3 linked regions of the Homo sapiens genome follow. The protein of the gene in region 1 purifies or fractionates together with the protein of each later gene. This does not show direct contact. Each region holds a gene or a part of one and is shown in the gene's direction. Other genes may lie near its edges.

The links. The genes of interacting proteins can lie anywhere in the genome.
Region 2: the proteins of FKBP9 (region 1) and TCF20 purify together in Homo sapiens (co-immunoprecipitation; 3 studies listed by BioGRID and IntAct, with this or other methods). This does not show direct contact.
Region 3: the proteins of FKBP9 (region 1) and PTPRS purify together in Homo sapiens (affinity purification with mass spectrometry; 2 studies listed by BioGRID and IntAct, with this or other methods). This does not show direct contact.

Annotation. Positions count from the first base shown.
Region 1 is NC_000007.14:32,953,204-32,960,964, forward strand, and holds the start of FKBP9 (peptidyl-prolyl cis-trans isomerase FKBP9 isoform 1 precursor), read left to right. Parts: upstream 1-4,236; 5' UTR 4,237-4,370; coding exon 4,371-4,591; intron 4,592-7,761. UniProt on the Homo sapiens protein: PPIases accelerate the folding of proteins during protein synthesis.
Region 2 is NC_000022.11:42,267,536-42,275,626, reverse strand, and holds the start of TCF20 (transcription factor 20), read left to right. Parts: upstream 1-4,973; 5' UTR 4,974-5,288; exon of another isoform or gene 5,289-7,314; intron 7,315-8,091. UniProt on the Homo sapiens protein: Transcriptional activator that binds to the regulatory region of MMP3 and thereby controls stromelysin expression. It stimulates the activity of various transcriptional activators such as JUN, SP1, PAX6 and ETS1, suggesting a function as a coactivator.
Region 3 is NC_000019.10:5,330,695-5,338,356, reverse strand, and holds part of PTPRS (receptor-type tyrosine-protein phosphatase S isoform 1 precursor), read left to right. Parts: intron 1-290; exon of another isoform or gene 291-900; intron 901-1,017; exon of another isoform or gene 1,018-1,109; intron 1,110-1,401; exon of another isoform or gene 1,402-1,495; intron 1,496-1,582; exon of another isoform or gene 1,583-1,669; intron 1,670-1,793; exon of another isoform or gene 1,794-1,862; intron 1,863-7,662. UniProt on the Homo sapiens protein: Cell surface receptor that binds to glycosaminoglycans, including chondroitin sulfate proteoglycans and heparan sulfate proteoglycan.

The DNA of each region.
Region 1 (7,761 bases):
AACAACATGGCCTTTTATAATCTAGCCCAGAAGTCACGGCCCACCAGTTAGACTGTATTCTATTGGTCAGCACAGCTGCGGGCCTATCCAGATTCAACAGGATAATCATAAACTCCACTTCTAAATGGGAGGAGCCTCAAAGAATTTCAGGCCAACACAGATGGGGTGTTCACTTATGCTTACACATTTGTTTTGTCATATAGTTGTAAGGGTTTTTTTGTTTGTTTGTTTTGAGACAGAGTCTCACTCTGTTGCCCAGGCTGGAGTGCAGTGGTGTGATCTGGGCTCACTGCAACCTCCGTCCCTGGGGTTCAAGTGATTCTCCTGCCTCAGCCTCCCGAGTAGCTGGGATTACAGATGCCTGCCACCACGCCCAGCTAATTTTTGTATTTTTAGTAGAGACGGGGTTTCACCATCTTGGCCAGGCTGGTCTTGAACTCCTGACCTCATGATCCACCCGCCTCAGCCTCTCAAAGTGCTGGGATTACAGGCGTGAGCCACCATGCCTGGCCGTAAGTTGTTTTTTTTTTTTTTTTTTTTTTTTTTTTGAGATGGAGTCTTGCTCTGTCGCCAGGCTGGAGTGCAGTGGTGCGATCTCAACTCACTGCAAGCTCCCCTTCCCGGGTTCACGCCATTCTCCTGCCTCAGCCTCCTGAGTAGCTGGGACTACAGGCGCCCGCTACCACGCCCGGCTAATTTTTGTATTTTTAGTAGAGATGGGGTTTCACCGTGTTAGCCAGGATGGTCTCGATCTCCTGTCCTCGCGATCCGCCCGCCTCGGCCTCCCAAAGTGTTGGGATTACAGGCGTGAGCCACAGCGCCTGGCCAAGTATTTTTTTAATTTATCATTTGTCTTTAAAAAATTTGTGACATTTTTTAATAGCAAGATTTTTTTTTTCTTTTTTGAGACAGAGTCGTGGTATGTTGCCCAGGCTGGACTTGAACTTCTGGGCTCAAGAGATCCTCCCACCTCAGGCTCTCAAGTAGTTAGGACTACAGGCTCCTAGATCCTGCCACCACGAGCAGACATTCATTTTTATTTTATTTTATATATATTTTTAGACAGGCTCTCACTCTGTCACCTAGGCTGGAGTGCAGTGGTGTGATCACAATTCATTGCAGCCTCCATCTTCTAGGTTGAAGATGATCTTCCACCTCAGCCTCCGAAGTAGCTGAACGGGGACTACAGGTGCAGGCCGCCCTGCTCTACCTTTTTTTTTTTTTTTTTTTTTTTTTTTTGAGACAAAGTCTCTCTCTGTCACCCAGGCCAATTGTGCAGTGGTGAAATCATGGCTCACTGCAGCCTCAACATCCAGGGCTCAAGCGATCCTCCAACATCAGCTTCCCAAATAGCTGGGACTACAGGCACACACCACCACATCTGGCTAATTTTTGTTTGGTTTTTGTTTTTCTTTTTGAGACAGGGTATCACTCAGTTGCCCAGGCTGGAGTTTATTTTTTCTGTAAAGTAGTGATTACACCTATGACCTTATACAGAGTTGTCATGAAGATTGGACTTCTTGGCATCTAGTTCAAAAGATCAAGTTTCAAATCCCAAGTCTTTACCAATTAATATGTATTGTATGTTTAGCGTCTGAGCCTAGAAACTAATTCAGCACCAAGATATTTCCCCAAATTGCCGTAAGAGGTCAGTAGGCAAGATAAGTATCATCTGTTTTACAGTCAAGGGTGGAAGTAAGAAGTTACCTGACTTGCCTGAAGCCACGGAGACATAAGTGAAGCAAAGACTGGACCAAAGTATATGTGTAGTGAATGAACTGAATGTCTGAATTCATGCCAATAAAATGTATAACAATTTTTATTATCAATGATTATATACTTCAAAATCAAGGTATTGTTTGACAACACAAAGATGACATGCAAAAGTACTTTTTGGTGGTCAGTGCCATTAATAGACTTAATAGACTACAATCAGAAAGTTTTTTCTTTTTTTTTTTTTTTTTTTTTTGAGATAGAGTTTTGCTCTGTCACCCAGGCTGGAGTGCAATTGTGCGATCTTGGCTCAGTGCAACCTCTGCCTCTGGGGTTCAAGCGATTCTCCTGCCTCAGCCACCGGAGTAGCTGGGATTATAGGCATGCAACACCACACCTAGCTAATTTTTGTACTTTTAGTAGAGACGGGGTTTCACCAGGTTGCCCAGGCTGGTCTCAAACTCCTGAGATCAAGCAATCTGCCCCCCTTGGCCTCCCAAAGTGCTGGGATTACAGGGGTGAGTAATTTTTGTATTTTTTCGTAGAGGTGGGGTTTTGCCATGTTGCCCAGGCTGGTCTCAAACTCCTGGGCTCAAGTGATACTCCTGCCTCGGCCTTCTAAAGTGCCAGGATTACAGAAGTGAGCCACCAGGCCCTCTGTTTGTTTTCAAAATCAGAGGTAGATGTTGAATTTTATCTCATGCCGTTTTGAGTCTATGGCCACATGATCTTAGAGCTTTTTTTCCCTTCTTCTGTCCTATAATTTTATTAATAGGTGTTCTATTTCTAGAATAAGCTCTAAGATGAACAATGAACATTTTTCTTGTTATTCATGTAGTTTCTCATTCGATCCCTGAAACCTAAGATTATAGTAATCTTATAATGATTGTTTTATCTTCATCTTACAGAGAACACTGACATTTTGTTAATTTACAGAAGCTCACCTAGGTAGCCCATGTAATGGTATATTTTTCCTTTAACATACCGTTTTTTAAATTTTTTATTTATTTTTTTTTTGAGGCAGAGTCTCACTCTGTCGCCTGGGCTGGAGTGCAGTGGTGCAATTTAGTGGCACAATCTCGGCTCATTGCAACCTTCGACTCCCAGGTTCCAGCAATTTTTCTGCCTCAGCCTCCCAAGTAGCTGGGACTACAGGCCGTGCCACCACACCCTGCTAATTTTTGTATTTTTAGTAGAGCCAGGGTTTCACCATGTTGGACAGGCTGGTCTTGAACTCCTGACTTCAGGTGATCCAACCACCTCGGCCTCCCAAAGTGCTAGGGTTACAGGTGTGAGCCACTGCGCCTGGCCTAATATGCGGTTGAATCCGATTTTATTACGTTTTATTCAGTATTTTTGCATTTATATTTATAAATTAGATCGTGCCCTGTTTTTTCAGTTTTATTTTTCTTTTTTGTTGCTCTCTTTGCCAGGTTTTGGTATCAGAATTGTGTTTGCTTCCAAAACGAGTTGAGAAAGAGTTGGTGATTTGCTTTCATTATTCCAAAATTTTAATAAATTATAACACCCAATTCCAATTCCAAGTGCATCTGATTACTCTAATGGATTCCTGTGGCTTCTGGGTCTCTATGATGAAGTCCTCCCTGGCATAGGCTCGTATATGGGAGCTTGTAGGATGTCTGCAAGTATCAGCTCACAGTGCGGCCGCTGATGGCTTGGAGGACCCTCACGGTGCCTTAAAACTTTTGCCTAGACAAGTGTCACGGGAGCCTCTCGCAATACATGCCTCCCTTTTCTTTTTTTGGAGACAGTGTCTCGTACTGTCGCCAGGGCTGGTGTGCAGTGGCGCGATCTCGGCTCGCTGCAACCTCCGCCTCCCGGGTTCCAGCGATTCTCCTACCTCAGCCTCCCGAGTAGCTGGGACTACAGGCACGCGCCACCAAGCCTGGCTAATTTTTTTGTATTTTTAGTAGAGACGGGGTTTCATCATGTTGGCCAGGATGGTCTCCATCTCCTGACCTCGTGATCCGCCTGCCTTGGCCTCCCAAAGCGTTGGGATTACAGGCGTGAGCCACGGCGCCCGGCCTTCCTTTTCCTTTAAGCAGTATTAAAAAAAAAAAAAAAAAGTCCTGAAGGATGGTTTCGGTCTCTTTCAAGGTAGACCATACCCTTGTAACTAAGCTTAAAAAATTAAAATCTAATTTTCCCTCCCTCTCCAAAGCAGCAAGGGAAAATTGGATCCACGGCCACGTAGGAGCCCCTCACGGCACCAAACCCGGTGTCTCCAGGGACGGGCGGAGACCAGCGGGTGGGCTTGGGCAGTACGCGCTTTTCTCTTCCGACTTTGGGCCAAAGCCTTGTCCGGAGATCACAGTGTCTCGCTCGGGGACACGCCCTCTCTAGGCCCAGACTTGGTCCCCACTGGAGTTCCCAGCCCCCCTCCCCGCTGCGGCACGCACATTCCCAATGCCGGGCGGGGCAGGGCGCAGCAGGCCCGCCCTCGGCGCGCGGCCAGGCTGGGCTCCTCCCCTGGAGCTGCGGCCGGGAGGGCGGGCGGCCGGGGAGACGGGGTGGCGGCTGCAGCCCGGGTAGGGCCAGGAGACCCGGTCCACGTTTGCAAACGCAGCCGAACGCCCAGGCCGACCCGTGCCGCCCGAGCGCCGCGCTGCGTCCGCGCCACTCTTCTCGCCGCCCCGATGGCGTTCCGGGGCTGGAGGCCCCCGCCGCCACCGCTGCTCCTGCTGCTGCTCTGGGTGACCGGGCAGGCAGCGCCCGTGGCGGGCCTGGGCTCCGACGCGGAGCTGCAGATCGAGCGGCGCTTCGTGCCCGACGAGTGCCCGCGCACCGTGCGCAGCGGCGACTTCGTGCGCTACCACTACGTGGGGACGTTCCCCGACGGCCAGAAGTTCGACTCCAGGTACCGCGCCCTTGGCGCCCGGCGCGGCCTCAGCGGATGCGCGTCCCTCTCTCCGGACAGGCCTTTCCCTCCTGCCGGACCTCCCCTAGCTCCGCCCCGTGCAGCCGCGCTCCTCCCTTCTTCCGCTGCCCAGATCCTCCCGGACCCCAGACCCTCCGCCGCGGGTGAGCCTCCCGGCCCTCACGTGCCCTAGGCTGCCAGCCGGGGACTGGACCCTTGGAGGACCTTGAGCAGCGGGGTTGGGGCAGACCACGTCCTCCCTTTCCTCCCAGCGCATGGACACACGCAAAATCAGTGTAAAATAATCAGTGTAAGTGGAGGCCACGTTGCACAACTGGACCCCCAAGAGTGGATGTTCGTGCCTGCCTCTCTTCGCCCTTTCCTGTTCCTTCCCTCCGCTCCCTTGGGAATCTAGTCAGATGGTGCTTCTCACACAGAACAATGATGAAGAGGCTAGCAGCCCCAAACATACAATGAGCTGTTAACAATGTGTAGGTGTAGTTCTAAGTACTTTCCATATTGTAGTGAACTCATTTAATTGTACAGCAGTCTTGTGAGGTAGGTACTATCACTACCCTCATTTTATCAGTAAGGTAACAAGCAACTGCGGCTAAGAAACGTGTTTAAACAATGGAGTCAGATTGTTTAATCCAACTCCAGAGTCTGTGTGCGCAACTACCACTGCCCTTCCTTTCCTGCCATACAAAAACCTCTCTTGGGGCTGGGCGTGGTGGCTCACGCCTGTAGTCCCAGCACTTTGAGAGAACGAGGCGGGAGGATCGCTTGAGCCCAGGAGTTTGGGGCTGCTGTGAGCTATGATCGTGCCATTGCACTGCAGCCTGGGAGACAGAGAGAGATCCCATCACAAAACAAAACACAACACGACACCTCTCGTGGGCAGGAGGTAGTCCAGGACCGTCACTCTGCTTTATACCAGGCCCTATATCAAGCCCAGAACTCCTTCTCTCAGCTCTGCCTCAGGATCACAGCACTGCTCTCCCGTTTCCCTCCAGTTTAGGTTCGGGGTTAACAGGCCTCTCTTCGTCCAGCACCAGGCTACTCCTCGCCAAGGCTTTTGTTACAAACCCTGGTCTGTGCCAGCACTTCCCTTCGCGAACACTAGATCAGGCAGAGAGAGCTATTTGTTGAGCCCCTGCTATGTGCCCCAAGGCCTAGGGTCATTACGAATATTTTGTAGACTCTTGACTTTTTTGAAGTTCCAGACAATGAATATACAAAAGCTGTTCAGCATAGTATGTGGCACTAGCAAGCGCTTAGAAATGGTCATTCTTACTACCATTTTAGTTACTTTAAAAAAAAAAAACAACAGGCCGGGCGCGGTGGCTCACGCCTGTAATCCCAGCACTTTGGGAGGCCGAGGCGGGCGGATCACGAGGTCAGGAGATCGAGACCATCCTGGCTAACACGGTGAAACCCGGTCTCTACTAAAAATACAAAAAATTAGCCGGGCGAGGTGGCGGGCGCCTGTAATCCCAACTACGCGGGAGGTTGAGACAGGAGAATGGCGTGAACCTGGGAGGCGGAGCCTGCAGTGAGCCGAGACGTGCCACTGCACTCCAACCTGGGTGACAGGGAGACTCCGTCTCAAAAAACAAAACAAAACAAAAAACAAAAAACGAAACAAAAAAAACAGCTTTATTGAGATATAATGCCATACAATTTGCCCATTTGGTGTGTACAATTCAGTGTTTTTTAGTATATTCACAGAGTAGTGCAAACATCACAACTAGCTATTTCCAGAACATTTTCATCACCCCCAAAAAAGAAACGCTGGACCCATTATCAGTCACTCCCCAACCCCAGTTAGACTGCCCTCCAGTCCCTTTCAGCCACGAATCCACTTTATGTCTCTATGGATTTGCCTCTTCTGGACATTTTGTATAAATGGAATCATATAATTTGAGGTGCTTTGTTATTTATTTATAATTGGCTTCTTTCATGGTTCATTTACGGTGTAAGGTATATCAGTACTTCATTCCTTTTTGTGGCTGTATATGTAATATTCCATTGTGTCCATTCATCAGTTGATGGACATTTGGATTGCTTATACTTTTTGGCTATCATGAATGATGTTATGAACATTCATGTGCAAGGTTTTGTGTGGATGTACCTTTTCCTTTTTTTGGATATATACCTAGGAGTTGGAATTGCTGCGTCCTATGGCACCTATGTTATAAACGTTTTGAAGAATAGCCAACCTGTTTCCCCACAATGGCTGCACCATTTTACATTCCCACCAGCAGTGTATGAAGGTTCATAGTTCTCCACGGTCTCAACAACACTTGTACTTGTCTTTTTTTTTTTTTTTTTTTTTGAGATGGAATTTTGCTCTTGTCACCCAGGCTGGAGTGCAATGGTGCGATCACAGCTCACTGCAACCTCCCTGCCTCCCGGGTTCAAGCAATTCTCTTACCTCAGCCTCCTGAGTAGCTGGGATTACAGGTGCCTGCCACCACGCCTGGCTAATTTTTGTATTTTTAGTAGAGACGAGGTTTCACCATGTTGGCCAGGCTGGTCTTGAACTCCTGACCTCAGGTGATCTGCCCACCTCGGCCTCCCAAAGTGCTGGGATTACAGGCGGGAGCCACCACGCCTGGCCTGTGTCTTTGATTATAACCATTTAGTGGGTGTGAAATGATATCTCATTGTGGTTTCGATCTGCATTTCTCTAATGGCTAACGATGTTGAGCATCATATGCGTATTGACCATTTGTGTATCTTCTTTCATGTGCTTCTTTCATAGGGAAGAATTTCTTGCTTGAGTTGATGGTAATTAATTCCAGTAGAACAAGTTGTCCTACTATCTAGAACATCTCTAGGGCTGGCAGCCACTGTGAGGTAGTGTAGGGCAGTTGAAAGAGCATGGAGGATCTACCATCCATTCATCAAACGTTTTTCAGCGTCTATCCCTCAAGAGAGAGACTAGTCCTAGTCTAGTATGCTTCTTCCCCATCCCTACCACTTACAGCCTAGGCTATTACAACATGGTGTGATAAGTACAGTAAGACAGTAGCACACACTCTGTCTCTCATAGAGTTCACACATAGTTCTTACCATGTGCCTTCACATATGTTAACTCATTTAATCTTAGAATAATTTGTTTAACTTCTCAAGACAGTGAGGTAGGTACCTCATTACAAATGAATAAA
Region 2 (8,091 bases), on another chromosome or scaffold:
GGGATCACTCAGGTAAGGGCGCCGACTCCCCTGAGGCAGGCAGCTCACCTGGCCCCTCCCAGCCCAATTTACAGCTGAAGAAATTGGATGATTTAAAGACACACACTGGTGAGACCAGGCTGGCGCCAGCTCAGTGACTGGCCCGATGAGAGTCCAGCCACTGGGGACAGTGAGTGCCGGGCAGGTGGGGGTGATCTGTGCGCTCAGGTTGCACGGGCTTCCCGTTTCTTGGCCTATCCTCAGGTGTTAGCTCTCTGCTCACCTGTGGGGAAGATGTGTAAGTCGATTCACAGCAGCTGCTGCTTGTTGGGCAGACCGTGGTCTTCCAGGCATGGGGTCCGAGAGTCTGAGGCCCCCCGACCTGCCCGAGCTGCCCAGTGTCCAGGGCTTAATATATGACTGCTGGAGGGGCTGGCGCTGCCCATGCCGTCCTCTTACATTCTTTCCCTATCGGCCTGCAGACTTTTGGTCCTACTGACTGTCTAGGTCCATCTCTGTCTTTCCAGTGTTTGCTGAGTGCTGGGAAGCTTGGTGGTTAAGAGTGCAGCCTCTGAAAACCTGGGTTCAAATACCAGCTCAGCCTCTTCCAAACTGTGTGACTTGGGATAAGTTAAACTCTTTGCACCTCAGTGGCCCCATCTGTAAAATAGGGGTGATAACAGTACCAAACTCATTAGACTGCTGCAAATAAGAAGAACTGGGATGATAAAGGGAAATCTGCATAGTGCCTGGTTCATAGTAAGCCTGGATTCCTCTGGGCTGTATCATCCTCATTAACATCATTTTAATGGACATGGTGCCCTACCCTGCACAGGATGCCGGAGACCCAAGAGAAGCAGAGGTGTCTCTGCCCTGCATATGCTCACAGTCCAGGGGGAGAGATGGATGCATCCCAGATTAGGATGCCACACTTCTATCCTGGAGGGCAGAGTGGAGGGGCAAACCTGGAGAGCAGAAGTTTCTGTGGGACCCTGTGAAACAAATCCATGCCAAACATGTCAATGCTCTAAGGCCCTGCAGGATCCCACCCTTGCCCAACTCCGCAGCTTCATCTTTTTCCCCTGCACTGGGCACAGTCCTCCTGGGCACAGCAGGTGGCTCTCCCCCACACCCCTAAGTCTTGGTATTCTCTGGTCCTCTGTTTTAAGGCCCTCCCCACCACCATAACTTTAGAGCCTCCCCTGACCTTGCCCCAGAAAGAACTGTTCTGAGCCCCCATGCTCCCTCCATGCGGGCTCAGAGACTTGCACAAAGCAGGGGCTCCTGTGGAATGAGGGCACAGAATGAGGGCGTGCCCACAGAGGCTCTCCACCCCTGCTGTTTGTGCACTCTCAGTATCCTTGTGCTTTGCAAGGGGACAGTGCGTGGCTTGGGGACAGGCACAGCAGGAGGCTGTGGGGAGTTTCCCGCTCTGTTAGCCAGAGGCTTTTGTAAGTTGCCTCCTGGCAGACTGCAGATGAAGCCCCGAGCTTGTGAGCAGGAATTCCAGGCCTCCCTCTTGGTGTGACTGAGTTAGCAGGCGGCGCCTCCCAAGAGGAAGGAGAGCTGGAGCTTGGTGAAGGATAAAGGTGAGGGCTGTGTGTCTGCTCACGAGAGCTGGCAAGTGAGGAAGGACATCCGCCTGCTCTGAAGGCACCGACACCCTGGCTCACTTCGCACAAGTCACTGATCTGCCGAGCAGGGCCAGTCTCCTCAATCAATCCACGCTGACAGATGGTAGTAGAATCAGTGACCTAGAGGCAGAAGGCTCCATTTGTAATCCTGGAGTGGCCCAGGCGCCTGGAGGAGGGCAGAGGAGTTTGTAATAAAAGGAGTGATACAGTGTTTCCAAAAGCCGTCTTTGAGCCAGAGGAGGAGGGAAAGGATTAATTTTGTTTCTAGAATTGATACACTGATTCAGTTCAATAAGTAATTTTTGAGTGGACTGGGTTAGGAGGGAGGGGGAAAAAAACTAGTCTACTGTTTTTGTTTTTTTGTTTGTTTTTTTTTTTACTGTTCTTTCCTTAAAGAGCTCCGAGTGTGGTAGGAAAAACAGGATCCATGCATTTGAGACAGTGAGAGAACAACAGAAAACACTAATGTGATTTCAGAGGAAGGGGCGCTCAGTTATTGAGTGCCTGCCACTGTGCAATCTTGGGCAGCAACTTAACCTGTTTGAGCCTCAGTCTACTCATGTCCTTTTGTGTCCATGTCATAGAACATGCAGCTAGTGTTAACAGTGCCTGGTACTGCACTGAATTTTTTTTTTTTTTTTTTTTTTTTTTTTGAGACGGAGTTTTGCTCTTGTCGCCCAGGCTGGAGTGCAACAGCACAATCTCAGCTAACTGCAACCTTTGCCTCCAGGGTTCAGGCGATTCTCCTGCCTCAGCCTCCCAAGTAGCTGGGATTACAGGCGCCCGCCACCACGCCCAGCTAATTTTTGTATTTTTAGTAGAGACAGGGTTTCACCATGTTGGTCAGGGTGGTCTTGAACTCCTGACCTCAGGTGATACACCCCCCTTGGCCTCCCAAGTGCTGGGATTACAGGCGTAAGCCACTGTGCCTGGCCTATGCAGCTCTCTTGAGAGTCCCACAACACCTTATGAGTGAGGTAATTAAAAAAAAATTTTTTTCTTTTAAATAAATAGAGATGAGGGGGAGTCTCACTGTGTTGCGCAGGTTGGTCTTGAACTCCTGGCCTCAAGCAATCCTCACACCTCGGCTTCCCAAAGTGCTGGGATTACAGGTGTGAGCCACCACACCCGGCCCAGTGAGATAATATTATCTCCATTTTATAGCTGAGGAAACCAAAGGGGGAAGTGACTTGTCCAAGGCCACGCAGTCCAAGAGTAACCCACATCTTCCTGTTGGCTATGATGCCCATACACGTTCTTTTTCCAGATGGAACCAAAAGAGAAAGTGGCAGGCTTTCAGGGATAAAGAGGCCCAGCTGGCCTGGTCCAAGGACTGGGGAAGTTTCCAGGTGGAGGGCATTGGGGCAATGTTCTGGCAGGGTCTGAAAGGGCGGGGAGGGGGCTGCATGGTTATAAGAGGCAGGAGCTGACAGGCGCCTGGACTCCAGTTATCTGTCTGCATTCTTTATTCTTTCCCTTTTGAATGAGGCTCTGCGACAGATTGTCAGCATCCCCCGGGCCCTGCATCTGAGACGCAAGTGAGGTTATGAAGAAGGGAAAGAATGGAAGAATGATGGGGCAGGGGACTCTAAGGAAAAAGGATTCATCTTTCTTCATGAATTCTCTCAAGAAATTAAGGGTGCCCCCAACACCAGTCTTCAGGAGGCCCTGCATTCTCCTATTTTTGTCCAGAAAACATTGATTTGTGCTGAGTGCCTCTTCCAGCTTTCCCTTTACAGCCCTGATCCCAGGAGAAGCCAGGTACTGGTCTTTTAAAAGTCTTGAGGCCTGAGAATTTGAAAATGAAACTCAGAAGAACAATGGGAATAATCAGAGGGCAGGGCCCCGTGGCTTGTTCAGCTCTGCCCCGGAAGAGCCTGGCATGCAGGAGGTGTTGGGGAATCAAGTCCCCAGGAATAGTCCTGACCTGCTTTGGAGCCAGCCCCCACTTTGTGAGATTGGACAGAAGCCAGGAGAAATCACTGCCTTCCCCAAGTACATGCTCCTGCCAAGGGGCCCAGGACCACCTGGGGCTCTGCCTGGGACCCTGAGACCCTCCTTGGGTAGCCTGAGAAAAGGCAATGGCTAGGTGGGGTGAAAGGTCAAAAAGTAAAAGCAGGCCCCGGGAAGCTGTGTACCTCAAATATATGGAAATCTGGGTTCCAGACCACACCTGGTTCCTGACAATCCCCACCTGCTGCCGGAAGCACTTTTCCAATCCCAACTTTTAAGTTGGGTTGCTTCAGGAGAGGAAGCCACATACTCCCCTAACATCTAGGACAGATGGGAGCCTAATTTAGAATCGGCAATTTTAGCCAACATTAGGGACATCTAATCCAAACTCTCCTCACCCACAGGAAACTGAGGCCCAAAGTGGGAGGAGAATTTGGCCAGGTCAAAGGTCAGGGGCAGGATCACAAATTCTCAACGCATCCTACTCTTGCTGGCCTTGTCACTTTTGATGGCCGTGGGGGCACCAACATCTACATATTAGTTGCTCTACAATTGCGATTTTCTTTATAAAGAAGTCAAGCCCTTCCTTTGCTTTAGAAACATCAGGTTTGCAAAGGAAGGCTGGGAACAAGCTGAGGCCTTGGCACCGCAAATCCTCCGCCTTATCGGCAAATTAATTCGGGACCCTGGGCGCAGTCAGCCTGGCATTGCAGCTTCTTAATGCCGCAGCAGAAGGCAGCTGGAGCGTCCGTTTTACAGGTGAGGTAGGTGGGCCTCCCTCCTCGCGTTTTCCGCGGTGGAAACTGAGGCTCTGAGAGGACCCAAGTCGTTCCTCCACGGACACCTGGAACCCATGGGCGGGGGCTGCCAGGGACCCAGGCGGGACCAGCTAGGTCTTGGGCTGCCCCCGGCCCAGAGGGCTCTTGGCGGGCAGGAGCCGCCCCCACGCCCGACCCCACTAAACAGGTCACCGAGAGGAGACCGGGTCCTCGCCCGCGGACCTCCCGGGCCGCAAGAGGCGCGATTCTGGAGTTGGAGGCTCCAGGGAACTCCAGAAATCCCAGAGAGATTCCGGGCCACCAACTCCCCCAGAAAGTTGGCTCGCGTCCACCCCCAAGACGGCCCTGAGGCGCAGGCCAAGATGGCACTGGGCGGGTGGCGCGCGGCGCCCAGCGGCCGCAGAGGAGAACCCCGTGCGACCCTGCCGCGAGGTGGGGGTCTTCGCGATCCCTACCCGGCGCGCGCCAGCCTCGACGCCGCCGCACGCGGGTGGGCACGCGCGCGCCCGGCCCCGCCCCCAGCGCCCCGCCCCCGCCGCGCGCCCCGCCCCGCCGCGCGCCCTCCCGCCCGCCCGCGCGCCGCGGCCCGGAGCCTCCCCATTGGCCGCGCGCCGTCACCTGACGCTCTGTTATTTCCTGTGTGTTGGGAGAATGGAGAGAAAAAACCCCGAGCCCAGCCGCTTTCGGCCCCTGCGAGGCGGCCGCGGCCTCCGCCAGGGGAGCCCGCCCTGAGGCGCGCCTGACCGGGGAGCGAGCGCGCGGGCCGGAGCGAGCCTCGAGGGGCCGCGGCCCCGGCCCGCCCCGCCGCCGGCCCGGGCGCCCGAGCTGGAGGCGGCGGAGCCACCCCCACCCCCACCCCGCGCAGCGCCGCCCGCCGTCGCCACCGCTCCCTCCCCGCCCGCCCCCGGCGGAGGCCGAGGGACTGGGCGGGGGGCTCCTGCAGGTAACCGCCTCCCGGGCCTGAGGGGCAGGGAGAGGGTTGGGCCTGAAGGACTGGGGCCGGGCCGGGGTGTCCGGCCTCGGGGGCTGGGAGCAGAGGTCCCGGCCGGACCCAACCTGGGAGTGCGGAGCCTCCTGGACTCCGAGTCAGGGCTTGGGGTGCTGAGGGGAGTGTTGCTGCCCGGCCCGACCCAAGAGTGCGGGCAGGGGCCCGGGCCAGGCCTGGCATCAGAGGGCTAAGGTGTCTTGGGCCGGCCCGGGGTTCCGGCGGGGCTTGGGTGCCGGTGCTGGCCCGAGGGTGCGGAGGGAAGGTCTACCTGCTGGTCGCGCGAGGCCTTGGGTGCAAAGGCGGCGGGTGTGAGCGGGCGGCGTCCGGGAGTCAGCGCCGCCTGCTTCGGGGCCCCTGGCAGCCCCGGGGGCACCGGCCGCGCTCGCCTCTTGGCTACGGGCTGGAGGCGAGGCCAGCGGGGCTGGGCCGGGATGTGGGCGGGAGGGCGCCGCGCTGGGGCGCCCAGGAGAGCAGGGGCCCGTTTACTGCCATGTGAACACCTGAAGCCATGTGGACGCGGCTGCTTCTCGCCTGTTGGGGGCGGAGGGCAGGTACCGGCGGGTTGGGCGCAAGGTCCCGGCGCAGGACACACTTCCTGTGTGGGGCGGCCTCTCCTCCCGCGCCGCGGGGAACAGGGCGGGGTGTGCAAGCCGGGGTCTCTGGGCGAGGGAGCGCTCGTTTGGGGACCTGAGGCTTTCGTCCCTTTTTCGGGGGAAAGTGGTGGTTTGAAGGAGCGTGGCCAATCGGGCCGATCCCTCTCAGGCTACGGCGGGAGGTGCACTGTCCTCTGGACGCCGGAATGGGAGTGGAATTTAGTGAGTTGGGGGGCGGTGCCGAGGAGCGGCCGTCTTCCTCTGCTTGTGGGTGGGATTATTGTCTGTTTTTGTGGTTGCGGATACCAATACGGTCTGCTGGTCTGTATTCAATCCTTTAGTTTGACCTTAGGGGTCAGGTCAAAATTAGGATTTCCCCCTTTTCCTTTTTGCTTTTTTTTCCTCGAAGATTAGATGTCTCTGGTAACTGCTGTAAAATGGATGGAATTTTCGAGCTATTATCTAACAGGCTGATCTTTGAATGATAATTGGACCCTTATGTTAACAGCCTCAGTGAAGAGTGAAGAGTTTTATACAGCATCTTCCGTGGGGTGGCAGTTAGGTGGATGGGGAAGCTACACTGAATTCCGACCTGGGAGACCAGGAATCTGCTTACAGCTTTGACGCCAAATAAACTGCAGCCCAGGGCAAGTTACTTTCCCTGGTAATTTTCTCATCTGTTAAGTGAGGACTCCCGGGTCAGACGGTACAGGGGTTTGTGGTTTTGCTTTTTTATCTCTCATTTTGTGCTCTGTTTTAGCCATAGGCAACTTTTCTGAGAAATGCAGACTGTACCTTAGCTGGCTTTTAAAAGCCTGTCTTTAAGCTTCCAGCCTCTGCCTTCAACAGAGCATAAAAGTTGGTCAGGGTACGCTCTTTTTTGAAATCCCACTTGCTGTTCTGTGCTTCAGATCAGAAAGTGTATTATTCTGACCTAGGTGGAATGCACCTTAACATATTTTTTGTCTTTGTGAAAGAAGTTATCAGAAAATGTTTCAGAGAATATTTGTCTACTTGGAAAATGTGTGGATAACATGTGATTGGGTCTGTGTATGTTGGCTCAGAGGAGTTCCAAGATCTTTCTACGCAGGGGATTTTGGAGGATCCAGATTTTATTAAAGTTCTTCAAAGGACATTTGACATTTGGCTAACTGTTGAAATTTCCAGCCAGTTTCAGCATTCTCAGAGTAGGGGGATGAAGTAGAATGCCATAACATCTCCTGTGAAATGGTATGCTAGTGGAATTAACTGTCACCTCAGGGTGCACTGATTATCTGCATCCCCAACTTTCTCCTTACTGGTAGCCAGTGCTCCGCAGATGCTGAAGAACCGCAATTAGTTTCACTGATTTTATGGTGTGTGAAGGCCTTAGGCTGTGCTTTTGACTGGTAAGTATTTCTATACCAACCTCAGAATTTGTCTTAAATTTCTAGAACTGTGCTGCTGGGCCGGATATGAGCCCAATATGTTACAATATGTCTTTCTCAGATCACTTTTTATTTTTATATATTATTTAATTTTTAAAATTAAATCCCCTTTTATTTACTTATTTATTTTGACACAGTGTTGTTCTGTTGTCCAGGCTGGAGTGCAGTGGCACGATCTCAGCTCACTGCAGCCTCTACCTCCCAGTTTCAGGTGATTCTCCTGCGTCAGCCTCCCGAGTAGCTGGGATTAGAGGCATACACTACCACACCCGGCTAATTTTTGTATTTTAAGTAGAGACAACATTTCGCCATGTTAGCCAGGCTGGTCTTGAACTCCTGACCTCAGGTGATCCGCCTGCCTTGACTTCCCAAAGTGCTGGGATTACAGGTGTGAACCACTGCGCCTGGGCTAGATCACTTTTTGATTCAGTCTCTTTGAACAGTTTCCAAAAGGATCCCAGCATAGGGGCAGAGTGCTTATAATTATTGACTTCGGAGACAGTTTGGTAGTAATTTTCTTGTATGTTACCATCAGGCCTATCACACAAGTAAACACTTTTTTGTTTGTTTTTTTGAGACAGAGTCTCTCTCTGTTGCCAGGCTGGAGTGCAGTGGCACTATCTCGGCCCACTGTAACCTCCGCCTCCCGGGTTCAAGCAATTCTCCCACCTCAGCCTCCTGAGTAGCTGGGACTACAGGTGCGCACCACCACGCCCAGCTAATTTTTGTATTTTTAGT
Region 3 (7,662 bases), on another chromosome or scaffold:
CCTCCCAGCCCCCTGGGGGCCACCGCCCGCCATACTCCATCATCCTGAGAGTTGTTCTAATTGGGCTCAGGCAAACAAAACGTCGCAGGAGACCCAGGCTGCCTGGTGAGCTCACGCACTTTTCTATTTCTGCCACCCTGGCCGATGACATTGCCCCTAACCCCCCAGGGGGTGACAGAGACTGGTACTGTCAGTGGCCGTCCAGAGATGCCGTCCCAAGAGGCGGTGGACTGGCCCGCTCCCCACTCCCCGCGGGAGATGGGTGACAGGTCATTTTGGCGTGGCCCGGCTGAGGCGCTGGAGGGTGCTACTGGTTGGCAGGTCAGCTCCGGGGACGATTTCCCCCTCTCCAGGAAACCTTGAGAGCCTCTGAAGTCTGCGTGAGGTGGCGACAGAGAAGGGGACATTCAAACCCCAGGTTCCTGCCTGCTGCCAGCAGAGAAAAAAAAATCACTCCTTATACCCCGGTTGAGCGTTCAGTGCGCCTTTTTTCCCTGCCTCCCAGGGGATTTCAGGCATCGTCCAGTGTCCATGGACCCTGCTTGGAGACACAAGTCCATTTTCCCCCAATTTCCACCATGGAACAGGGGGAAGCTTCGTGGATGCCAGGGATTTCGTGGTAGCATCTGGGTGGGGAGACCTGGAGCCATCACTGTGCACCCATTTTTTTCTTCTTTGGGTCGCATAGAGCCTGGGGCTCTGCCTGGGTTTCCCCAGACCTGGTACCAGTCTGGAGGCAAATCTATCTCTGCTCATCAAACGTCTTTCTGGGAGGTGACTTGGTTTCCCCTTCTGCCTTCGGGGTTGGCGTTGAACAGCGGTTCACAGATGTCTGAGGGCAGCGCACACCTCCACTTGCCAAGATGGGGAGACCTGTGGCTTCGCTGATTATTCCAGCGGCTGCATGGCCCCAATACAATAGTTAGTGGGATGGCCGGAGAGGGACGGGCAGGGACGGTGTGACTTGGTGGTGCGACGTGGCATTTCTACCCGAGCGCCCCGTGGCCCCGCGTTCACCTGCTTTCTGTGACGGTGCAGCCGCCGTGTGCGTGGGGGAAGAAGCGGGGCGTGGAGAGAGTTCGGGATGGGGGCGAGCGGGAGGGAAAACCCTAAAAATAAAAAGGGATATTTATAAACCCAGCGGGTTTGGGGGATAATTGACAAAGCTTAATGTTTTTCGGCTGAGAGCAATTCCTTCCCCCTGCTACCCATTAAGCTCCATTTGCAGAGTCGGTCGGAGCCACGGGAAGATCTTGAGATGAGCTTTAGGTTTGGCGGGCGCAGTGCTGACCGCTGTAGCCCCCTTCTGGGAGGGTCTCGTACTTTCTGGAAGGAGACAGGGGTCCCAGAAAGGGGCACTCCCCAGCTCTCCTCTGCATCCAGGGTAGGCTCCTGGCTCACCTTCCAATGGGTGGGTGTCCTCTTAGAATTTGCAAGGAGGATGAGAACCCTTCTCGGGCAAAGCCTGTGCAGGTTGCCCTTCCTCCGTCCTTCCCTGCGGCAAAAGATGCCCAGGGAGGGGAATTTGAAGAGAGACCCTCCCCCCCACCACCCGCCGCCGCCCCACCCTCCAACCGCTCACCAGGCAGAGTGGCTCAGCCTCCGGTGGGGACAGGAGGAGAGGAGATTAAGACATAACTGCTGTTCCTCGCAGGATTCGTGTGGCAAGCTGATACAAAACAAAACAAAAAAACCAAAAATTCACCATGGATTCACGGACCAAGGCACGTATCCGGGGCTTGAAGGTTTCAAGGGCTTTTTAAACTGTGAATTTTGTCATTTTCACACCTTACCTTGCTCTGGAATCGGAAAGCTGCCAGCTTGTGGCTTGCGGGGCAGAGGAGAGGGGATGCTGGAAGGGGATTGAGGCTCAAATGCATGTCATCTTATCACCAGGTGACATTCTGAATTGAGGAAGGGGGACACGGAGAGAGGAAGTGAAGTGTAGGGGATGTGATCGAGGGAAAGGGTGGCTGTTGTCTCACGCAGAGAGTGGCAGCCCCAAAATGTCTAGGAAACAGGTGACACCTGGGTCTCTCTAACCCTGAGGTTCAAGAGTGTGGAGTGTGTGGTTTCCCCCCCGCCCCCCCCCCTTTTCCTTTAAGGAAAGAAAAGACTCTCAACCAAAAAGGGAAGAAAAAAAAAAACCCGACGTACCATTTCTGTCTTGTCTCTGGCTGATATTTGAGAAGCGCTGGGGAGGGGGTTGTGTGTGGGGAATTTGAAAAATCAATTGGCTTACACTTCTCCAAAGGCGAAAATTAACGGGTAGGAGTGATTCACGGACAGGCCCTCCACTTTCACATCGCTTTATTTTTGTCTCTCTCTTTTTTTTTTTTCCTCCTCCTCCTCCTCCATGGAGCTGCCGGTCCCCCAACATCGTGGCCTGGCCAGACTGGACCTTGGGGCTGGTGCTATTCTGGGCTAGCCGTGGAATCCCCTCTTCTGTTCCCCGGAATCAAGGCACCCTCTGCGCCCCGCAGAGGCCGAGGGGATATTCCACATCTGAAAATAAACCCAGGTTTCTGTGCGGCTTCCTGTTTCCTTCTGATTCCCGCGGATCCCACCCTGGTTGGGGGTTCAGAGCCTGGATTTTTGGATCATGGGGACTCCCTCCTCCGGTCCCCATCGCCGTAACTGGGGCTGGATCACAAATGTCCCGTTTCATGGGGACAGATTTCATCTCGTACTCTTTATGTTATCTGGGTGGCCTTGCTCCTTTTAAGTTGTTTTTGATCTTTGCCATAAGCCCCTTATAGGAAGGGCCAGCTGTCTCCTGTTCCCCCTACCTGGAGAACTGAAAATTCCCCTTTTTCTCCCAGATCTCACCTGCCTGCCTGCCTTCCTTCCTTCCTGGATGACTTCCCCTCTTCCCTTTCAGTTCTCCGTGCAGGAGCTTCCTCACTTACAGAATGAGGTTACCCCTCTGGGTTCCAGGTCAGAGCCCTGACTTGAGCCACCCTCCTCACTTGAGCTGTGCAAACTAGGGCGGGTTGCCTGACCTCTCTGTGTTCTCTCATCTCTAAGATCAGTACAGTCGCAGTCTGCGTCGCGGCGAGCCTTGACATGAGATGCTGTGGGTAAACATGCCTCCCCTGGCTCTCAACGCGTCCGCAGTCAGTCGCATGCATCCTTCCTTCCGCTCCTGGACACCCAGAGGGGTATCCGGCGGGCGGAGAAGCCATGGCTCTGGAAGCCTGGGACCCTCGGATGAGGCAGGCTGTGGGGAGAGAGGCTGGGAGGATGGCCCATCGTCGCGCTGTCACGTGGGTAATTGAGAGTTTGCGGAAATTCAGGGGTTCTGGGGAAGCGAGGTTGGCGCGTCTGTGTGTGTATAATTTAATGCCGCTTATAATTAACCCCCGTGATCAGCAAATGAGGGGATGTCGGGGGGATAATAACAGCTGCTCCGACTATTTAGAGTTGGCGCCCCGTGCCAGGCCCTCTGCTAAGTAAGCAAGTCAGTAGCATCCTTGTCTCCTCCAACCTGCCGTCCCCTGTCAGCGGAGTTGCTGTGATCTGAGCCCTATTTTGCAGAGAGGGAAACTGAGGCACAGGGAGGGGCCTTCACTGGCCTGAGGTCACTTCACACAGCCCACAAGCTGTTGGCTGCCACAACCTGGATTCCTAACGCCTGGAAGGAGCTCTGCCCGATTGTCAGGGATGTTTGTTTGGACAGCAGTCCATCTGCTGCGGGGGCCACCTGAATCGCTACAGAGACACCCCCCGCACACACACACCCCAGGGCTCTTGACTGCCTTTTCTCAGAGGTTAAGAGCAAGGATGCTGGACTGAGGCTGCATGGGGTTCAAATCCCGGCTCTGCCGACTTGTTGGCTGTGTGACCTGGGGCAAGTTGCTCAACCTCTCTGTGCTTCCGTCTTCCTCATCTGTCTATGGAGAAGAGTAACAGTGCCCACCTTGAGGGATTGTTAGGAGGAAGAAATGAGTTAACGTGTGTAAGCACAGATTCAGAACGGCACCTAGAATGTAGCTGCCACCTCTATTCTGTTTTTGTTATTATTTTTGACAACATGGGAGCTACACTGATATGTTGAAGGACCTGCCCAAGAGGGGCTCTCCAGTGTCCACCCGCGCCCCGCTACCCCGCCCTCAGCCCCCCGATGGGGTCCAGCACCAGGGAGATGTCAGGATGACTCAGCCACTGCAAACTGGGGCGTTCCCCTTCACTGGCTGCTTAATCAAGGCCGCCCCACTTCTGCGGCAGGACTGGGCGACTGGCGGGAGCTGAACCACAGGGGGCCTGGATGGTGGACAGGGAGGACACGTGGCTGCCTTGGGAGCTCCAGGCACTCCAGGGACTCCACATGTGGCTCCCAACTTCCAGAGCCCCTGGTGGGCCCGAGTGATCACCAAAGGGGGGAGTTTGGGGGGGATTTGGGGGTTTAACAGCAGTCATTTGATGGGCACTCAGGAAAGTGATCGGTTGACAAGCATGGTGTGCGAGCGAGCATGCATGCATTCATTCGAATATTCACCAGTTCATTAATTCATTCATTCCATCAGGATTGCTGGAAACCTGCTGCTAAGGAACTTGGAAGCCAGAATCTAAGCAGCTGTGGGGCTTGGGCTAGTAATAAAGCTGTTCTGTGCCTCAGTTTCCTGATCTGTAAAATGGGTGCTTTGACATTGCCTCTATCATAAGTGGAGACAGATGAACTGGTGTGGGGGGCACCAAGGACAGAGACTGAGAGTGGCACCTGCTGCTTTGTGGCTGGAGGTGAGGGGGGCGGAAACAAGAAGAGAAGAGTTGACTTTAGCTGGGGAAGACCACACAGGACCCCCCACCCCAAGGAGTTCGAATCGCATTGTGTGTGTGTGTGTGTGTGTGTGACAGGACTCACACTGTTGCTCAGGCTGGAGTGCAGTGATGCCATAATGGCTCACTGCAGTGTCTTAACTCCTGGGCTCAAGCAATCCTCCCACCTCAGCCTCCCAAGTAGCTGGGGACTATAGGCATCCACCAGCACGCCCAGCTGACTTTTGTATTATTATTATTATTATTATTATTATTTATTTATTTTTTTTTTGTAGAGATGGGTTTCACCATATTGCTCAGGCTGGTCTCAAACTCCTGGGTTCAAGCTATCTGCCTGCCTTGGCCTCGGAAAATGCTGGGATTCCAGGTGTGAGCCACCACACCTGGCGAATTGGCATTTTTTATTTATTTTTTATTTTATTTTATTTATTTGAGACAGTCTTGCTCTGTCGCCAGGCTGGAGTGCAACGGCGTGATCTCAGCTCACTGCAATCTCCGCCTCCCGGGTTCAAGTGGTTCTCCTGCCTCAGCCTCCCGAGTAGCTGGGATTACAGGCACCCGCCACCACATCTGGCTAATTTCTGTATTTTTGGTAGAGATGGGGTTTTACCCCATTGGCCAGGCTGGTCTCAAACTCCTGACATCAAGTGATCCGCCTGCCTTGGCCTCCCAAAGTGCCGGGATTACAGGCGTGAGCCACCGCGTCTAACAAATTGCATTTTTTAGATGTGCGGTCAGAGTTCTCTGAAAGCCCCCAGAGCTGGGCTGCCAACATCAGGATCAACAGAAAACCTGGAATGTTGGGAATGCTTCTTGGAACATCTGTCAGGCCAAGGCCCAGAGAGGGAGAGCAACTTGCCCAAGACCACACAGCCATGCCTGCCTGCCTGCTGCTGGGCCTTGCGCAGGAGGATGGACAGGGACCCCTTTCACCAGTCCAAAGGGAGAAACCGAGGCAGGAAGCCATGGCGGGTGTGTGATTCTCAAGCCATAACGCCTGTCAGGGCTGGAGTCTCCACTCCAGCGGGTCGTATGGGCCAAAAAGGCTTCTTCAACCTCCAAGGAAGCCCTGAATGGCTCCAGGGCCAGATCTGTTGGTTTTTCCAAGGAAAAGCAGAAATCTAGATTTTAAGTAAAATTGCCCAATTTTGGCTGGGCATGATGGCTCACGCCTGTAATCCCAGCACTTTGGGAGACCAAGGCAGGCAGATCACCTAAGGTCAGAAGTTTGAGACCAGCCTGGCCAACATGGTGAAACCCCGCCTCTACTAAAAATACAAAAATAATCTGGGCATGGTGGTGCATACCTGTAATCGCAGCTACTTGGGAGGCTGAGACAGGAGAATCGCTTGAACCTGGGAGGCGGAGGTTGCAGTGAGCTGAGATCATGCCACTTGCACTCCAGCCTGGGCGATAGAGTGAGACTCTGTCTAAAAAAAAAAAAAAATTGCCCTATTTTAACATCCTTGGGTTGAAACATCTTAACATGGCACAGTACAGAAATCCAGGGCCACCGTGGACTTTGACCCCTTCCCCAACAATTAAAAGTTGCGTGACTTCTGACACCTCCATTGCCGTCCGCGGGCCTCAGTTTCCAGGCCTGTGAAATGGGTTTAAGACTCCCAGCCACCTCTGCGGTTCTTTAGAGGCACCAGTGTGATAGCTTACAGAGAGTGCTGAGAACAGGGCCTGGGCCAGCGTCCGCGCTCGATAAACGTTGGCTCTGATTATATTAATATTGGTCATAATGATAAACTTGACTTAAATTAAATACTGCGTAGAAGGAAGCCGGCTGTCCCGCGGGGCAGGGCTGCGAATTATCTACTGGCGGCAGGACCTGCTTCTCCATCCCTCGTTCTTTCTGTAGCGCAGTCGTTTGCTCTTGGGGCTGGAGCACCCGGGTTACCAGTATTACTCGTTGAGTGTACTGCTGTGGTTCTCAGCCGGGGTCACTTTTGCTCCCCTGGGCACACTTGGCAACGTCTGGGGACATTTTTGGGTGTCATGTCCAGGGGGGTGCTGCTGGTATGGAGTAGGTGGAAGCCAGAGATGCTGCTCAACTCTGTGTAATGGCCAGGATGACCCCATCCCAGATAATGACCCCACCCTCATGTACACTGTGCTGAGGTTTAGAAACCCTGATTTTGCCAGGCATGGTGGCTCACGTCCATAATCCCAACACTTTGGGAGGTTAAAGCGGGAGGATTGCTTGAGCCTAGGAGTTCAAGATCAGACTGGGCAACACAGTGAGACCTCATCTCTACAAAAAACAAAAAAAAATCAGCCGAGGGTTGGGGTGCACACGTACGGTCCCAGCTACTGGGGAGGCTGAGGTGGGAGGATTGCTTGAGCCTAAGAGTTTGAGGCTGCAGTGAGCTATGATTGCATCACTCCACTCCAGCCTGGGCAACAGAGCAAGGCCTTCTCTTTTTTTTTTTTTTTTTTTTTTAAAAAAAGAAGCCCTGACTTATGCTGAAGACCCAAGACAGCGAGAGAAATCAGGCAGATGGTGCCTTTGTCCCTGAGCGTCCACCCAACACGCTCCCTGACGTCTCGCGGGGCCAGAACGCTTAGATTGCTAATGGGTTCCCTCTGCACATCTGTCCTGGTTCCACTGCCCCATTGATTATTGGAAGTGGGTAATTGCCCCTGTCGGATGAATTCTAGAGAGTGTGAACTGCCGGGGTTTCCGGCAACAGTGCTGGCTTCAACTCCCAGATATCAGCAGGGTGCAGAGAGGCTGCCAGGTCCCAGGACTTTTTCTCTTGGCCCCATCTGGCCCTGGGAGCCCAGACTCCGGCCCTGCTGGGGAAGGGCATTAGGGGTCTGAACGCCCCAGGTTCGGATCCTGACAAAGACCCTCCCTGGCTGTGTGAGATGACC